Homo sapiens: one gene and its partner. The protein of the gene in region 1 interacts with the protein of each later gene in a biochemical or structural test. Each region holds a gene or a part of one and is shown on either strand. Other genes may lie near its edges.

The links. The genes of interacting proteins can lie anywhere in the genome.
Region 2: the proteins of ITCH (region 1) and UBE2K form a complex in vitro, tested with the Homo sapiens proteins (2 studies listed by BioGRID).

Annotation. Positions count from the first base shown.
Region 1 is NC_000020.11:34,505,431-34,513,678, reverse strand, and holds the end of ITCH (E3 ubiquitin-protein ligase Itchy homolog), read right to left. Parts: intron 5,985-8,248; coding exon 5,885-5,984; 3' UTR 1,906-5,884; downstream 1-1,905. UniProt on the Homo sapiens protein: Acts as an Acts as an E3 ubiquitin-protein ligase which accepts ubiquitin from an E2 ubiquitin-conjugating enzyme in the form of a thioester and then directly transfers the ubiquitin to targeted substrates.
Region 2 is NC_000004.12:39,700,284-39,709,530, reverse strand, and holds part of UBE2K (ubiquitin-conjugating enzyme E2 K), read right to left. Parts: intron 1-9,247. UniProt on the Homo sapiens protein: Accepts ubiquitin from the E1 complex and catalyzes its covalent attachment to other proteins. In vitro, in the presence or in the absence of BRCA1-BARD1 E3 ubiquitin-protein ligase complex, catalyzes the synthesis of 'Lys-48'-linked polyubiquitin chains.

The sequences.
Region 1 (8,248 bases):
TGGGCACCTGTAATCCCAGCTACTAGGGAGGCTGAGGCAGAATTACTTGAACCCGGGAGGTGGAGGTTGCAGCGAGCCGAGATTGCGCCACTGCACTCCAGCCTGGGCGACAGAGCGTGACTCCATCTCAAAAAAAAAAAGTTTTGGGGATAGATAGGATTTGGAGACTAATTAAATGGAATGGCAAAATTGGTCACATTCGACTCCCAGTGTTGTGGTAAGTAGCAGTACAACAAAAATGGTAAAGTATGCATGCTTTAGAGTCAAACCATCCTGGATTCCAGCCTGTATTCTTTCTACTTAATAGTTGTGGACATGATTCAATCATTTTGAGCCTCTATTTTCTTGTAAAACAGAGATAATCATTACCAATAACAGGAAGACTAAGTGACACTGCACATAGCATATCTACCAGTGTCCTGCACATAGTGATAAATGTTGACAGTTGTTTTGGTATTAAATGAATATGGGTGTGGTACTGGTTGCTATGATATGGAAGACAAATAGAACAACAGGTCTGAATTAGAAGAAAAATAACAGGAGGGCTGTTTTTAGTGATCTTTCAAGTATGACTACAAATTGTCAAGGTCCTTCCCTGTGGGGTGCTTTGAGGAAATCCTCTTGTCCATAGCCACTCTTTGCTTATTAACAGACCCCTGTGCATAAGTGATCAACAGTGTCCTTCTGGGATTTATGTTTAAGGCCCTCTTTTCCTTGCCAACCAGGAATATTCCCCTGGCTCCTCACTCCAGATATCCTGATCACAAAGGAGTCCTATGAACATGGAAGAATTGACAACTGAAATGGGCTGGGAGAGAGAGCAGCTCCTGTACTGGAGTTACATAATGTGAGACAGACACTTAAAAAGTCCAGAGAACAGCCAGTCAGTCACAGCTGAGTCCCAGTTTGATGATTTGTAGGGTTTGGGATGAGAGCCAATGGCCAGTAAGAACAATTACTTACTGACCATTGACCCTCACTTAGCGGGGCATATTTTTCCCCTTATTCTAAGCCACAATGAAACTAGAGCATTCTAGCAGCTTCCATTGGACAGAATAAACAGGATAGGGTCTACTAACTACTCAGGACCTGGGAGGGGCCTGCAGTTTTTGTCCTCTAGTCCATGTTAGATCAGCCGTATTAAAAAATTCCTCTTCCCTTAGTCTCTCTCCACTGGTTCTGTTTTAAATGAGAGCATAATCACCTGAGCTTCCTAATAAGACAAAGTTCTACTGACGCTGGTAACCAGGTCAGCTTGTTGAGAACAGTCTTGGTAACAGTCTTGACAGCTAGCTAGTTGGTGGTTCTCTACTCAGCACTCATGCCTGTGGTCCCGGTCTTTTAGTTGTCTCAGAAAAGCAATTCATATGGAGGCCTTTATGTTGGTTGATGGCCCCTGCAGATATCTTCATCTTCAACATGGGCACCAAATCCAGTCTCATCTGCAACAGCTCTTTCTAGTTTTTTTCTACCCGTACCGTGGCAGGCCAGATCTCAATAACGCAGGCCTCCATAACAACTGTTTCAGCACTGAGTGGTTAAGTTAAATATTAAAAGCTGAAAGAGTGAGGGCCCTTATGCAAAGGCTAGAATGTAACAAAAGGCCACCAAGGGTTTTGCCCAGGCCTTTTCTGGGCCTTGAAGCATGACAAGATAACAAAGGAACCCATTTAGGATTAAACAAGTTTTATTGGGGGTCTGAAGGAACTTATTGAGGGGGTCTGAAGGCCTCCACAAACAAGTTTACTGGGGGTCTGAAGGAAGTCCCCAAACCTCCATGATTTAGCAGGAAACAAGATAAGGGTAATCACCCCAGCACCTGGACCCATTTAGATTAAGTAAATTTACTGAGGCTCCAGAGGAAGGTCTTCAGGGCTCAGATCTTATTTATAGATTTAAAAAAGTGAATCACTTATGTCTTTAGATGAATGTACACTCACATGTAGACATATAGCTTATAATGTAAATAAGCTCTGGAAAACTTTGTAGTTTTGAGTTGGTCTTGGGATCATTTCCAGGCTTTCTCCCCATACCTGGTTACAGAAATAAACTCCCTCCTTTCTCAGTTCATCTGCACCTCATTATTGGGCTGCGAGAATAAGCAGTCCAACCCTTGATTTGGTCTGGGAACAATACCACAATCCAGATGGGCTGTAACTTGCCACTTAAAAAAGCAGAGAGGCAGAAATCTATGTGACCTGGTCACATATAAGTCTCAGAAGGTGGGGCCGGGGAGAGAGGAAAGAGACCCCTCCTTACCCAAGACTGATAGAAAAGCATGCAAATGAAGGACCAAAAAAGTTTAATTATAAACAGTCTTACATCTTGTAGGAAAACGCAAGTGAGGCAACCACTGAAGGAACTTTATAAAAGCATTTGACTCCCTGTAATATTTGTAGCATTACCTGAGTATTAAAAGTAACAGATCAAGAAAACAAAGGTACTCTTAATACAGTAATATACAATCCAGTGCTGCCAATTCCATTTTTAGTTAATGAAAGCAAATTATACAAACAAAGTAAATAACTAAAAGAAAAACAAAAAAAGGAGGGGGGCTGGAGATACCAACAATACTAAATAGAAGTCGTTAACTCTAAAGGAGTTTAGAAAGGTAAGTTACATCCACAACAGGAAAGGATATAAAAATAGAGGAAAAATTTAATTCCGTGAGTCAACCCCGGTAACATTTCGGATTATTAACCAGATAAGTAAAAAGTGGTAGAGTGGGCTTGACTGAAATAGTTCATTTAGGATGAGAACTTTGTGTATAGTTGAGTCAAGTTTCACTAAAATTTCTGATCATTGGTATGTCAATCTCTTGATGAAAAATCAGTACCTGAATATGTCTTTTTGTTTTTTTAAGAGACAGGGTCTTGCTATGTTGCCCAGGCAGGATTTGAACTCCTGGGATCCTCCCACCTCAGCCTCCCGAGTACAATACCTGAATTTTAAATAGAGTTATTGTAAGTCTTATGAAATGAGATTTTGCTGCACTCTGACATAAGATAATAAAAGACAGAGCAGGAATTCATTATTATGAGCTGCTTGATCAGTTTTAAACCACTCCATTTGATGAAACAAGTGAGGTCCTTCCCTCCTGACCAGGCTGTGGAATGCTGTCTTCCCCAACCCCCACCCCCTGCAAAAGAGCAGAACAATAAGGCAATTGCTCATTTTACTTTGTTTTTATTTCAATGTAACATGCAGTAAAAAAAAAAAAAAAAAAAAAAAAAAATTAACAGGATTTATTAGCATTTACAATGCTTACAAAGAAAAAGACTTCTAAAAGCAAGTTAGTTCAGATTTAAGAAAAAGCTCTAAGTAAATACTTACAATAAATCTATTTCCATATGTTCAGTTTGGACCAAAATTTAAGATAGCATTTGGTAGATATTTATGTCTGCGGTCTATTTGCAGTATTTTTATATAACCTCTGATTCTTGGGATATCCAGCCCCCATTTTCCTAACACAGCAGGGAAGACATATACATGTGGCCACTTAAATTAAAGGAAAAAATGGAGTAGGGAGATCCCAGGCTGCAAAAATATATACAAGCATTTACCTTTTCCAGAACTAAACACTTCTTCCATAAAAATATTAAATAGCCAAGCCCTATAGAACTAGGGCCAGGGCTACTTCAAATATAACTATTCTGTATTTTAAAAATATAGGGCAGAAAGCCTTTTGGGTGATATTTATATATTTTCACACAATATTTCTAGGTCCCTAAATGAATCATGAAGCATTATATAGAACCAAAAAAATGTATTTTCTTACATTATCTCTTAATTTAATTTCATAAATCTCTAGTAAATATTGTAGGTAACTACATTTCAGTATGAGAATTCACCTCAACAGGAAGTCTTTATAGAGGGCTTAATCTTCATTAGCCATATATTACCAAGTTCAGACTTATATAATGAACGGGTAGTTGGCAGACATTCGCTCTGTAAGACAAAGCAATAGCGTTTTTTCTCCCTACCAACAAAAAGGCAGAGTCCCTACTTTTAACAACCAGGGCTTTTAGAAACCACACAGTATTTCCTGGGGTACATGAAATAAAAAAACCATAGGGCTGGGGAGAGCCTAGCCTCCCCATTTACACTGAGCTGCTTGATGAGGCAACCCTTTCACTCATGTAAGTCTCTGCTTTATGATGGCAGTATCTTACAGTAGACAAGTTTAAAAAAATGTTTTTATTGTTGTTCCAGGATGTAAAAGGAAGAACATTAGGGACAAAAAATTGTTTTTCTTTTTTCCATATGGAACAGGGTTCTGCTGCTTATTCTTGGCTTAATATTACTTGTTCATGCTATGCCTCTGAAATGTGGCAAAAGTCCCTGATACATGAGCTATGAGGCTGTCCTCAGGGTTCAGCTATGATAGAGACTCAGCTGGCTTAGGCTTCATCCACTGCCAATGAAGTCAAATTTATAACAGCCACCTTGACAGTCGAAGCTAGGCCAAGTTAAAATAATTAATTCCAGAGAACTTCAAAGTGCATTAATCAGTTAATAATGGAGCAATCTAAACTTAAATAGTCGTGAGAAAAAAAGGAAACCCTGTTAAAAATTTTAGGGGTGAAAATATTGCAGATGAGGGTTATCAATCCAGTTCATGACAATGTAAAGAATGGAAATGACTACTCCAACATATGTCAGAGAAATGATAACTTTGAAGACTTTTAATTCACAGAGAATATATTCCTGTGGTTACTGGATGTTATCTTCCTTTCTTTTTAGCCAGTACCACAGCTCTCCCTCTCAAATGAAAATCTGATGTCAAAAGCTGTTTCACTGACCTCTATTTGGACTAGAAAGCACTCTAGTCTTTCTAGTCTTAAACTCCTTAACAATAATTAAATATAACTGAAGTTGTTGGATTATGATAAAACTATAAAGCATCAATTATATAGCGGAACATATAAAAATCACCAGAGACATCTTTAGATGAATTCAATTAAATTAATTCTAATTCTAGGCTAAGTTTTTTTTCCTTTTATTTATTTATCCCCCACCACGCTGCCCAAAAAAAAGACAGGGTCTCCCTATGTTGCCCAGGCTGGTCTTTAACTCCTGGGCTAAAGGGATCCTCCTGCCTCGGCCTCCCAGAGTGCTAGGATTACAGGTATGAGCCACCATGCCCGGCCCTAGGTTAACTTCTTAAAACAATGAAGGAATCACAGTGTTAACATTGTTTGTAAAGTGTAGTATTTGTCAGGCAACTGAAACAATCAGACTTCCAAATGAAGTCATTTGCAGGCTGTGACCAACTTTTCCCTGAATTCAAATTGACAAAACTACTTTGTAGAGATGCAAGAGTCTTGCCTCACTTCCAGGAATGATGTATGGATTCATGCGCCAGAAAGGAAAAACAATAGTCAAGTCAGACTAAAATGAGAGGGAGAACACAAGCCCGAATTTTGCTCACATCCCCAGAAGCAGGAGTAAGCTTGCACTTTTAACAAATGCCTCTTACCAAGAGGCTTAATAGGAAAATCTTGTATATTGCAGTTACCAAAGGACTTCCCTGCATGTCTGCAGAATGTCTAAAAGAAAAAAACACTACTCCCAAGTGAGACTTTTGACACACATAAAATATTGTTGTTAAAGGAATAAACTAGTGGAATAAGACAAGGCAAATTTCATTGTTGTGTTAAAATCTCATGTTAAGCAAGGTTCTGACTAGTCATTTGCAGACCTGATTTCTGGAAACGCTGAGTAGAAATCACTGGGAGATAAATCTAAATGAGAACATTAATTTACTTACACTCAGATAACTCTCTAAAGAGCCATTGTCCAATTTTACAAGATGTGCAACAGGCAGAGAAGGACAAACATTGCAAATAAGTTCTTGCCCATTCATGGTGCAAGTTCTCAGAAGTTACTCTTGTCCAAATCCTTCTGTTTCTTCTATGGCAAACAACAGCTTTTCCTTCAGTTGCTCATAGCTCTTGTATGGTGGCAGGTCCAGGCGATTAAAACTAAAAGCAAGAATTGTTAGTTTGAGAAAAGGAAATATGCAAAGAATCAAATGAGTAGTGTAGTATACTACTTTATACACTACTATAGAAGCACAAAAATATACTACTGTGCTTCAAAGGATACCATCAAGAAAGTGAAATAACCCAAAAATGGGAAAAAATATTTGTAAATCATATATCTGATAAAGGACTGGTATCCAAAATATATAAAAAACTTAAAACTCAACAATATTTAAAAATGAACAAAGGATAGAGATTTCTCCAAAGACATACAAATGACCAATAAGCACATTAAAAAAATGCTCAACATCCTTTACCATGCAAATAAAAACCACAATGAGATACCACTTCACACCTGTTGGGATGGCTATTATTTAAAACACCAAAACAACAACAACAACAACCAAAAAAAAAAAAAAAAAAAAAAAAAACAGAAGAAAACAAGAGTTGAAAAGGATGTGAGGATGTGGAGAAATTGGAGCCCCTCTGCACTACAGGTAGGAATATAACGCAGTGTAGTCACTATGGAAAACAGTATGGCGAGATTCCCCCAAAAAATTAAAAATAGAATTACTACATGATCAAGGAATTCCACCTCTGGGTATATACCCAAAACAACTGAAAGCAGGGCCATGGACAGATATATCTATATTCTACCACAGTATACCTATGTTTATAGCAGCATAAACAGCCAAAAGGTGGAAATAATCTAAGTGTCCATGGACAGATGAATGTATAAACAAAATGTAGTATATCCAGACTATCAAATATTATTCAGCATTAAAAAGGAGGAAATGCTGACACATGCTACAACATGGATGAAAATTAAAGATATTATTCTAAGTGAAATAAGCCAGCCAGGAAAGGACAAATAAGGTACGATTCTACACTTACGAAGTACTAAAGAATCATAGAAACAGTAGTAGAATGATGTTTGCCAGGACCTGGGGAAAGGGAGTCATGGGGAGTCATTGTTTAAAGCAGCAGTCTCCAGCCTTTTTGGCACCAGGCAATGGTTTTGTGGAAGACAATTTTTCCATGGACAGGAGTGGAGAGGGGGATGGTTTCAGGATGAAACTGTTCCACCTCAGGTTAGATTCTCGTAAGGAATGCACAATCTAGATCCCTCACATGCACAGTTCACAATAGTTATTGCTCCTATGAGAATCTAATGCCTCTGCTGATCTGACAAGTGGTGGAGCTCAGCAGGTAATGCTCATTCACCCTCCACTTACCTCCTGCTGTGCAGCCCAGTTCCTAACAGGCTGGGGACCAGGAGTTGGGGACCCCTGCTTTAATGGGTACCATTTCAATTTTACAAGATGAAAAATGTTTTAGGTCTGGCATGATGGCCTGTAATTCCAGCACTTTGGGAGGTCAAAGCAGGAGTATTGCTTGAGCTCAAGAGGTCGAGACCAGCCTGAGCAACAAAGTAAGACTCTGTCTCTACAAAAAGTTTAGAAATTGGCCAGGTGTGGTAGCACATGCCTGTCGTCCCAGCTACTTGGGAGGCTAAGGTAGGAGGACAGTTTGAGCCCGGGAGGTGGAGGGTGCATGAGTGGAGATTGAGCTACAGCACTCCAGCCTGGGTGACAGACTGAGACATGTCTCAACAAAAGAAACAATTTTTGGAGATAGGTGATGGTGATGACTGCATAATGATATGAATGCACTTAATGCCACTGAACTGTACACACTTAAAAATGGTAAATTCTATGTTATGTATATTAAACCCAACAATTAATTTTAAAAAGGAATGAAATACTGTATATGCTAGACCATGGATGAACCTTGAAAACATGCTAAGTAAAAGAAGCTACACACAAAAGGTTGTATATTTTGGCTGGGGGCAGTGGCTCACGCCTGTAATCCCAGGACTTTGGGAGGCCAAAGTGGGTGGATCACGAGGTCAGGAGTTCAAGAACAGCCTGGCGAACATGGTGAAACCCCGTCTCTACTAAAAATACAAAAATTAGCCATGCGTGGTGGTGCATGCTGCCTATAGTCCCAGCTACTCGGGAGGCTGAGGCAGGAGAATCACTTGAACCCAGGAGGCAGAGGTTGCAATGAGCTGAGATCACGCCACTGCACTCCAGCCTGGGTGACAGAGAGAGACTGTCTCCAAAAAAAAAAAAGTTATATATTTATCGTATGATTCATTTTATATGAAATGTCCAGAACAGGAAAATTCATAGAGACAGAAAGTAGATTAGTGGTTACCAAGGGCTACACGGGGTAAAAAGGGAGTGACTGCTAATGGGTAC
Region 2 (9,247 bases), on another chromosome or scaffold:
TATTGTAATGAAAGTTACGTGAATGTGCTCTCTCAAAATACCTTATTGTACTATACTCACTTATTTTTGGACGATGGTTGACAATGGGTAACTGAAACTGCAGAAAATCAAACTGCAGATAAGGGTGGACTACTTGGCCACTAGCCCCATGGATTATTGGCACACAGGTGACAAAGAAACACTATTAGAAGTACCTTAACCCTCATCTTGAGCTTTTCTTGAGGCATATTTACATCCAATAATCACTAAACCATTGAACAATACCTTTATAATCCAAGAATAATAAGCACGACAGAATATGAAAACATAGCTAATTCTGACATCTAACAGCTATCCGTTTACTGAATGTTTAATTATGTCCCAAGGTTGTTCTAAGCACCGCAAGGACTCTCCTAATCTTCCCACATTTTTACAGATTAAAAAAATCGAGATACAGAGCCAGTACTTCAGGTTTTAAGAAGAAAAGCCAGGACTCAAAGCAAATCTAATTCTAAAGCCCACGCCCTTAATTACTAAGCTAACTTAACTAAATTATGCTTCAGGAGTTAAAAAATCTCTACCTCCTTGGCAAGTTCAAGTTCTCATACTAAGAGGAAAAAAAAAAAAAAAGACACAAATAATACTGCATTGTTATCCCCTTCTGTAAAGTTGTATTAGCAGTCAGCTTTTATACTATCATTTATGAAAAGGATATTCCCAAAAACCAACTACTTATTATGACTAAACTGGTATGCAAAAAGCCTGGGTTCACCATTAACCAGCTCTGTTTCTCTGAGAAACAATCAACCTCCTTGGGCCTCAATTTCCTGATTTTATAGATGAGAAGTTTGGCCTAGATCTGTTTCAGCTCTGAAATTCAATACATTTTGGCACATTTTCTAAGACACTATATTTTTCTTAAGAAAGATTTTGAAAAGCATCTTTTGAAAACTTTCAAACTTAAAATACATAATATATACTCACATCTATTCTTTTACTCAAACATACTCAAAACTAATCGGTTATTAGAAGTCAGGAAAGTAACTAGAAAGGCAGGCAGATTCCCATGGTACTGGGAAGGGTCTGTTTCTTGATTTGGATGCCAGTCACACTTTATTACGTACACATTTTACTTTAATATGAAAAAGGGTGGTTTTCCTCCCCAAAAGGTAACCATGAAGAAAGTTAAGATCATGATCTAACTCTAAAACTATGTTTGAGTATGTAAGAGCTGTGCAACCTTTCTGTTCTAAATATGCAAATGTGCTTCTTGAATAATTGTATCAATAATCTCTTTGTTCCATAGTTCCAATTCATGTGCCTAAAGAAAAGTTCATTTACTTAAGAATCTCGGCCAGGCGCGGTGGCTCACGCCTGCAATCCCAGCACTTCGGGAGGCCAAGGCTGGCAGATCACCTGAGTCCCGGAGTTCGAGACCAGCCTGACTGACCACCATGGAGAAACCCGGTCTCTACTAAAAATACAAAATTAGCTGAGCGTGGTGGTGCATGCCTGTAATCCCAGCTTCTCGGGAGACTGAGGCAGGAGAATCGCTTGAACCCGGGAGGCAGAGGTTGCAATGAGCTGAGATTGTGCCACTGCACTCCAGCCTGGGCAACAAGAGCAAAACTGTCTCAGAAAAAAAAAATTGCAATATTACCAGAATTCCTTTGGGACTGTCTCCTGAAATTTGAGGTCAGTCTTAACTTTCCTCTAGAACTCAGCTCAAGAAGGCTGGGTGAGGTGGCTCATGCCTATAATCCCAGCACTTTGGGAGGCTGAGGCAGGAGGACTGCTTGAAGCCAGGAGTTCAAGACCAACCTGGGCAACACAATGAGACCCCATCTCTACAAAAAATAAAAATTAGCCAGGTGTGGTGGCACACACCTGTAGTCCCAGCTACTCGGGAGGCTGAGGTGGAAGGCCTGCTAGAACCCAGGAGGTCAAGGCTGCAATGAGCTATGATTGTGCCCCTGGGCGACAGAGTGAGACCCCATCTCAAAAAAAAAAAAAAGGCACCTAGCTCAAGAACCTCCCTCATACAGTCATACAGGCCAGGCACGACGGCTCATGCCTGTAATCCCAGCACTTTGAGAAGCCAAGGCAGGCGGATCACCTGAGGTCTGAAGTTCGAGACCAGCCTGGCTAGAAACCCCATCTCTACTAAAAATAGGAAAATTAGCTGGGTATGGTGGCATGCGCCTGTAATCCCAGCTACTGGGTCAAGCAGGAGAACTGCCTGACCTGGGAAGCAGAAGCTGCAGTGAGCCAAGATCATGTCACCGCACTCCAGCCTGGGTGAGAGAGTGAGATTCCATCTCAAACAAAACAAAACAAAAAAACTCCAGGTGGGGTGGCTCACACATGTAAGCCCAGCACTTTGGGAGGCCAAGACAGCCAGATCACCTGAGGTCAGGAGTGTGAGACCAGCCTGGTCAACATGGTGAAATCCAGTCTCTACTAAAAATACAAAAAAAATTAGCCGGGTGTGGTGGCGCATGCCTGTAATTCCAGCCATTCTGGAGGCTGAGGCCTGAGAATCACTTGAAGCCAGGAGGCGGAGGCTGCAGTGAGCCGAGATAAAGCCACTGCACTCCAGGCTGGGTGACAGAGACTCTGACTCAAAACAAAACAAAAACAAAAAAGAACCTCCCTCATTCAAATACCCTCAGAATCCCATAGCATTTACACTTTGCCCCTCCCATTTTTATCTATCCTTTGTCCTGTATCTCCAACCAATTAAGCCTTTTGGGGCTGTGGTCAACATGTTCGGTAACTGTTAATAATGTATTCACTGGGAAATAAGAGTATATAGTCTTGGCTGGGCATTGTGGCTCACACTTGTAATCTTATCACTTTGGGAGACCAGCCTGGCCAACATCATAAAACCCTGTCTCTACTAACAATATAAAAAATTGGCTGGGCGGTGGGGCGCGCCTGTAATCCCAGCTACTTGGTAGGCTGAGGCAGGAGAACCGCTTGACCTGGGAGGTGGTGGCTGCAGTGAGCTTGGATCATGCTACTGGACTCCAGCCAGGGTGACACAGTGAGATTCCATCTGGGAAAAAAAAAAAAAAAAAGTCCAGGCATGCCAGGCATGGTGGCTCACCATTTAAGCCAAGCACTTTGGGAGGCCCAGGCAGGCAGATCATCTGAGGCCGCGAGTTTAAGACCAGCCTGGCCAATACAATGAAACCCTGTCTCTACTAAAACTACAAAAATTAGCTGGGTATTGTGGCCGGACAGGGTGGTTCACACCTGTAATCCCAGCACTTTGGGAGGCCAAGGCAGGCAGATCACGAGGTCAGGAGATCGAGACCATCCTGACTAACACGGTGAAACCCCGTCTCTACTAAAAAAAAAATACAAAAAATTAGCTGGGAGTGGTCGTGGACGCCTGTAGTCCCAGCTACTCAGGAGGCTGAGGCAGGAGAATGGCATGAACCTGAGAGGCGGAGCTTGCAGTGAGCTGAGATAGCGCCACTGCACTCCAGCCTAGGTGACAGAGCGAGACTCCGTCTCAAAAAAGAAAATTAGCTGGGCATGGTGGCGCATGCCTGTAATCCCGGGATCCCAGCCATTCCAGAGGCTGAGGTATTGGTTGAACCTGGGAGGCGGAGGTTGCAGTGAGCTGAGATCGCGCCACTGCACTCCAGCCTGGGTGACAAAGCGAGACTCCGTCTCAAAAAAAAAAATTAGCTGGGCGTGGTGGCGCATGCCTGTAATCCCGGGATCCCAGCCATTCCAGAGGCTGAGGTATTGGTTGAACCTGGGAGGCGGAGGTTGCAGTGAGCTGAGATGGAGCCACTGCACTCCAGGCTGGGTGATAGAGCCGAGACTCTGTCACAAAAACAAAACAAAACAACAACAAAAAGGAATCTCTCTCATGCAGATACCCTTTAGAATCCCATAGCATTTACTCTTTGCCCCCACCATTTTTATCTATCCTTTGTCTGCCCTGTATCTCTAACCAGTTAAGCCTTTTGGGGCTATAGTCAATATTTTCAATAACTGTCAATAATGTATTCACGGGAAATAAGAGTATATAGTCTTGGCTGGGCACGGTGGCTCACGCCTGTAATCCCAGCACTTTGGGAGGCCAAGGCAGTTGGATCACTTGAGGTCAGGGGTTCGAGACCAGCCTGGCCAACATGGTAAAACCCTGTCTCTACTAACAATACAAAATATTAGCTGGGCGTGGTGGGGTGCGCCTGTAATACCAGCTACTCAGGAGGCTGAGGCACGAGAGTCGCTTGAACCCGGGAGGCAGAGGCTGTGGTGAGTTGAGATCGTGCCACCATACTCCAGCCTGGACAACAGAGCAAGACTCTGTCTCCCAAAAAAAAAAAAAAAAAAACCCAGGTGCAGTGGCTCATGCCTGCAATCCCAGCACTTTGGGAGGCCGAGGCGGCAGATCACAAGGTCAGGAGCTCGAGACCAGCCTGGCCAATACGGTAAAAACCCGTCTCTACTAAAAATACAAAAACAAAAACAAAAAAAAACAAAAAAAAACATTAGCCATGCATGCTGGCACATGCCTGTAATCCCAGCTACTCAGGAGGCTGAGACAGGAGAATTGCTTGAACCCGGGAGGCGGAGGTTGCGGTGAGCCGAGATGGCGCATTGCACTCCAGCCTGGGCGACAGAGGGAGACTCCGTCTAAAAAAAAAAAAAAAAAAAAAGGTGTATAGTCTTTAAGAAGGGGTGACAGGCCAAGCATGGTGGCTCACGTCTGTAATCCCAGCACTTCAGGTGGCCAAGGCCGGAGGATCACTTCAGTCCAGGAGTTCGAGACCAGCCTGGGCAACATGGTGAAACCCCGTCTCTACAAAAAATTACATAAATTAGCTGGGCATGGTGGCAGACGCCTTTAGTCCCTGCTACTTGGAAGGCTGAGGTAGGAGGATCATCTAAGCCTGGGGAGTTCAAGGCTGCAGTGAACTGTGATCACGCCACTGCATTCTAGCTTTGGTGACAGTGAGACTCTGTTTCAAAAATAAATAAATAAAAAGGGAAGAAGCTAGGGAGCCCAGATGTGTCTAAACCTACGCCCAATGGACAGAGCTCAAAGTCTTTGTAACACTGTATACAAGGAATTCACCCCAAACATATTACCTGCACAGACTTTGATTTTTTTTAACCCAATCTATAGGCTTTCCTTGCTCAACCCATTCCAGAAACCATAAGAAATACTATTTAAATATTACATAAAACTGTAACTTACATAACTTTCAAACACACTTTTGAAAAAATAAAATAAAAATAAAAACTTTAAAAACCACTTTTTTACTATTTGGAGACAGTGTGTTGCTCTGTCACCCAGGCTGGAGTGCAGTGGCACAATCACCGCTCACTGCAGCCTCGACCTCCCAGACTCAAACGATTCTCCTGCCTCAGCCTCCCCAAGTGCTGCAATTACCGATGTGAGCCACCACGCCTGCCTCTAGTCTTAGAAACAACTGTTCAAATTCTCGTTACATTCATTTTTGGTAGAAAATTTTACCTTTTTATTAAAATCAAAAGCGAGAAATTTTAAAAGAAAAACACTAAAAACGGGAAACAAACTTAAAAGTTTTAAAAATAAAACATTCAAAGCCAGTATATATTTTTTGTCTTTACTGTCTGTGTCCATTTATTCTTTAGATAAATTATCTTACACATCTGATACAGTTAAGTCTCAAAGTATTCTTTTTTTTTTTTTTTTTTTGAGATGGAGTCTCGCTCTGTCGCCAGGCTGCAGTGCAGTGGTGCCATCTCGCTCACTGCAACCTCCACCTCCCCGGTTCAAGCAATTCTCCTGCCTCAGCCTCCCAAGTAGCTGGGACTACAGGCACTCACCACCATGCCCGGCTAATTTTTGTATTTTTAGTAGAGACGGGGTTTCATCATGTTGGCCAGGATGGTCTCGATCTCCTGACCTCGTGATCCACCTGCCTAGGCCTCCCAAAGTGCTGGGATTACAGGCGTGAGCCACCACGCCTGGCTGTGTTCTTCTTATATAGTTAATAAATAGCCAGGAATCATTTTCTTTTTTCATTTATGAGACAGGGTCTCGCTGATGCCCAGGCTAAAGTGCGGTCACATGATCACAATTCACTGCAGCCTTGACCTCATGGGCTCAAGCATCCTCCAGCCTCGGCCTCCCGAGTAGCTGCCACTATAGGCACATACCACCAGGCCTGGCTGATTTTTTTTAAATGTTAGTAGTAACAAACTCTCACTATGTTGCCCAGGCTGGTCTTGAACTCCTGGCCTCAATCGAGTCTCAGCCTCCTAAAATGCTAGATTACAGGCATAAGCCACCCCACCTGGCCATAAACACTCTTTTAAAGAGTTTTGTCAGGCCAGCCTGGCCAACATGGTGAAACCCCCGTCTCTACTAAAAATAAAAACATTAACCGGGCATGGTAGTAGGCGCCTGTAATCCAAGCTACTCGGGAGGCTGAGGCAGAATGGCTTGCAACCAGGAGGTGGAGGTTGCAGTGAGCTGAGATCGTGCCACTGCACTCCAGCCTGGGTGACTGAGCAAGACTCTGTATCAAAAAAAAAAGTTTTGTCTACATAGTTCTCAACATATGGCAGTCTGGGGACATTTTTAGTTGATGCATCCAGCAAGAAGAGATAGTGGGGACATGCGCTGGGGCTCTGCAGTGCTACCTGCATATACTGGTAGAGGTCAGGGATGTTGCTAAACATCCCACAATGCACAGGAGAGCCACTCAACAAAGAACTATCTGCCCAAAATGTCAGTAGTGCCAAGGTTAAAAAATCCATGGTCTACAGAAATCAAAAGACTTACTTTTAGAGATTTACAACTACTTCTATTACAGAATAATCTAGATCAAGCTAGATCAAGTACATTAAAATTTTAAAGGAAAATAGACACAAAAATCTATTTAAATGATGAGGGAAAACTTAATGTACTATATAGTAATTTTCACGAAACCAATTTGTTTATGCCATAGATTTAAACACGCCCTATGAGACTAGAAAATGTTGGCCAGGTGCAGTAGCTCACTCCTGTAATCCCAGCAATTTGGGAAGTCGAGGCGGGTGGATCACCTGAGGTCGGGAGTTCAAGACCAGCCTGACCAACATGGAGAAACCTCGCCTCTACTTAAAATACAAAATTAGCCAGCCATGGTGGTGCATGCCTATAATCCCAGCTACTCAGGAGGCCGAGGCAGGAGAATTGCTTGAATCCAGGAGGCGGAGGTTGGGGTGAGCCAAGATCGCGCCATTGCACTCCAGCCTGGGCAACAAAAGCAAAACTCCGTCTCAAAAAAAAAAAAAAAAAAAAAAAAAAAAAAAAAAAAAAAAGAAAAGAAAAGAAAAGAAAAGAAAATGTTACCAAAGTGCAATTACAACATGAAAAACCAACAGGTGCCATATAGCATAAGACCAACAAGAGAGTGCACTGATTTAAGGGTGTTTTATTTCATTAAGTTTCAAATTTTAAAATATTTGGTATATTGAAATTCAAGTAAATCTGGCTGGGTGTGGTGGCTCATGCCTGTAACCCCAGCACTTTGGGAGGTTGAGGCAGGCGGATCACTTGAAGTTAGGAGTTCAAGACCAGCCTGGCCAACATGGTGAAACGTCGTCTCTACTAAAAATACAAAAATTAGCTGGGCGTGGTGGCGGGCACCTGTAATCCCAGCTACTCAGGAGGCTAAGGCGGCAGAATCTCTAGAACCTGGGAGGCAGAGGTTGTGGTGAGCTGAGATCGCACCACTGCACTCCAGTCTGGGCGAGACAGCGAGATTCCTTCTTAAAAGAAAAAAAAAAAAACATGAAAGAAAGAAATTCAAGTACATCTTAAAGTTAATTATAGGTAACACTTATTTCAATGAGTTTAAACTAGCAAATTAAACTGTGTTTAAATCCTTTAACCAGTAATACAAACCAGGCTCGATTTTTTAAATTAATTAAAAGCATGCCTATCCTTAGCAAGTCATGACAGCGTGGGACAATATGAACACAAGCAGACCTAGATCCAAATCCCAGGCTCTGTGATTGCAGACAAATAATTTAACTTCTCTAAATCTCTATTTTCTCATCTAGGAAATAGGACATCTAAAGAACTGTGCTTAAGAATTAGCAATAACGTAAAAACAAATGATACTAAGAACAACTAGCCATTCTACAAATGGCAGCTAGTTATTAACAGCAGCAATAACTAATAGTAAATAATAAAACTTATGAATAAAACATTGATTATGGGTTTATATCCTCACAATTAATAATTTACTTATGTAATCCTACTCATAAAATAACTAATTATAAAATGTACTTTACATCAATATTCCATGCCTAACAACTTTGGAATATTATTTAAAACTACTTAAAATTCACACTCATATTTAAAAACAAACATCTAAAACAAAGAAAATAAATATTAATTAATAAAAAGAAACATCTGACAAATTTCCAAACACTGTCTTAAGGGAAAGAGGCCAAATGATGCCTTTAAGTAAATCACATTTGTATGACACAAAATTCAAAAAATATCTATACCCCAGACACCCAACTCTCTACACAGAAAGCAATCAATTTTACCAATTTCTCATGAAACCTTTTACCCATACAGGCAAATACACACATGCCCTTCTTTTTGACACAAATGGCCTCTTCCACACTATTCTGCACCTTGCTTTTTCACATTTATCTTGTTGGCTGTATTTTAACACACTCTAAGAACGGCCACTTATAATCTCTCATAACCAGAATCCAGTAAGCGTCAGCTATCTTTACAAAGGCTCTTATAAGGCCACCCCAAAAAGTCCTTAAATCAACCAGTGTTCTTAGTAAACACAAGCATACAAACACATGAAATAAACTTCGGTAAAGTGCTGATTTACCAAAAAAGTGACATGATGAAACATTTATTTGATCAGCCATTCAAAAGACTGTATTTACACCCTTAAAAAGGAAACACATGGACTATACTACAAGTCTTCAATGAGTTGAAAATAACAATACACTTATAGAACTGGGGCTACTAAAATATCAAAAAATACTGGTGAAAATAAGCTATTTATTGGTTATATTTATTCCAAGATTAAATGATGTGACCCTTTCCTAAATGTTCTTTCCAACTTATTTTCCCAGAAGTTTCCTTCCATATTTATACAGGTACTGTTCTAAACAAAACAAAACAAAACAAACAAACAACAAAAACAACAAAAAACCTGTCTGTTTGCATTTCCTGTTTTCTTCTTCTGAAACACTTTTGATGCTTATCTGAAGTAAGGCTTCAACATCCCTT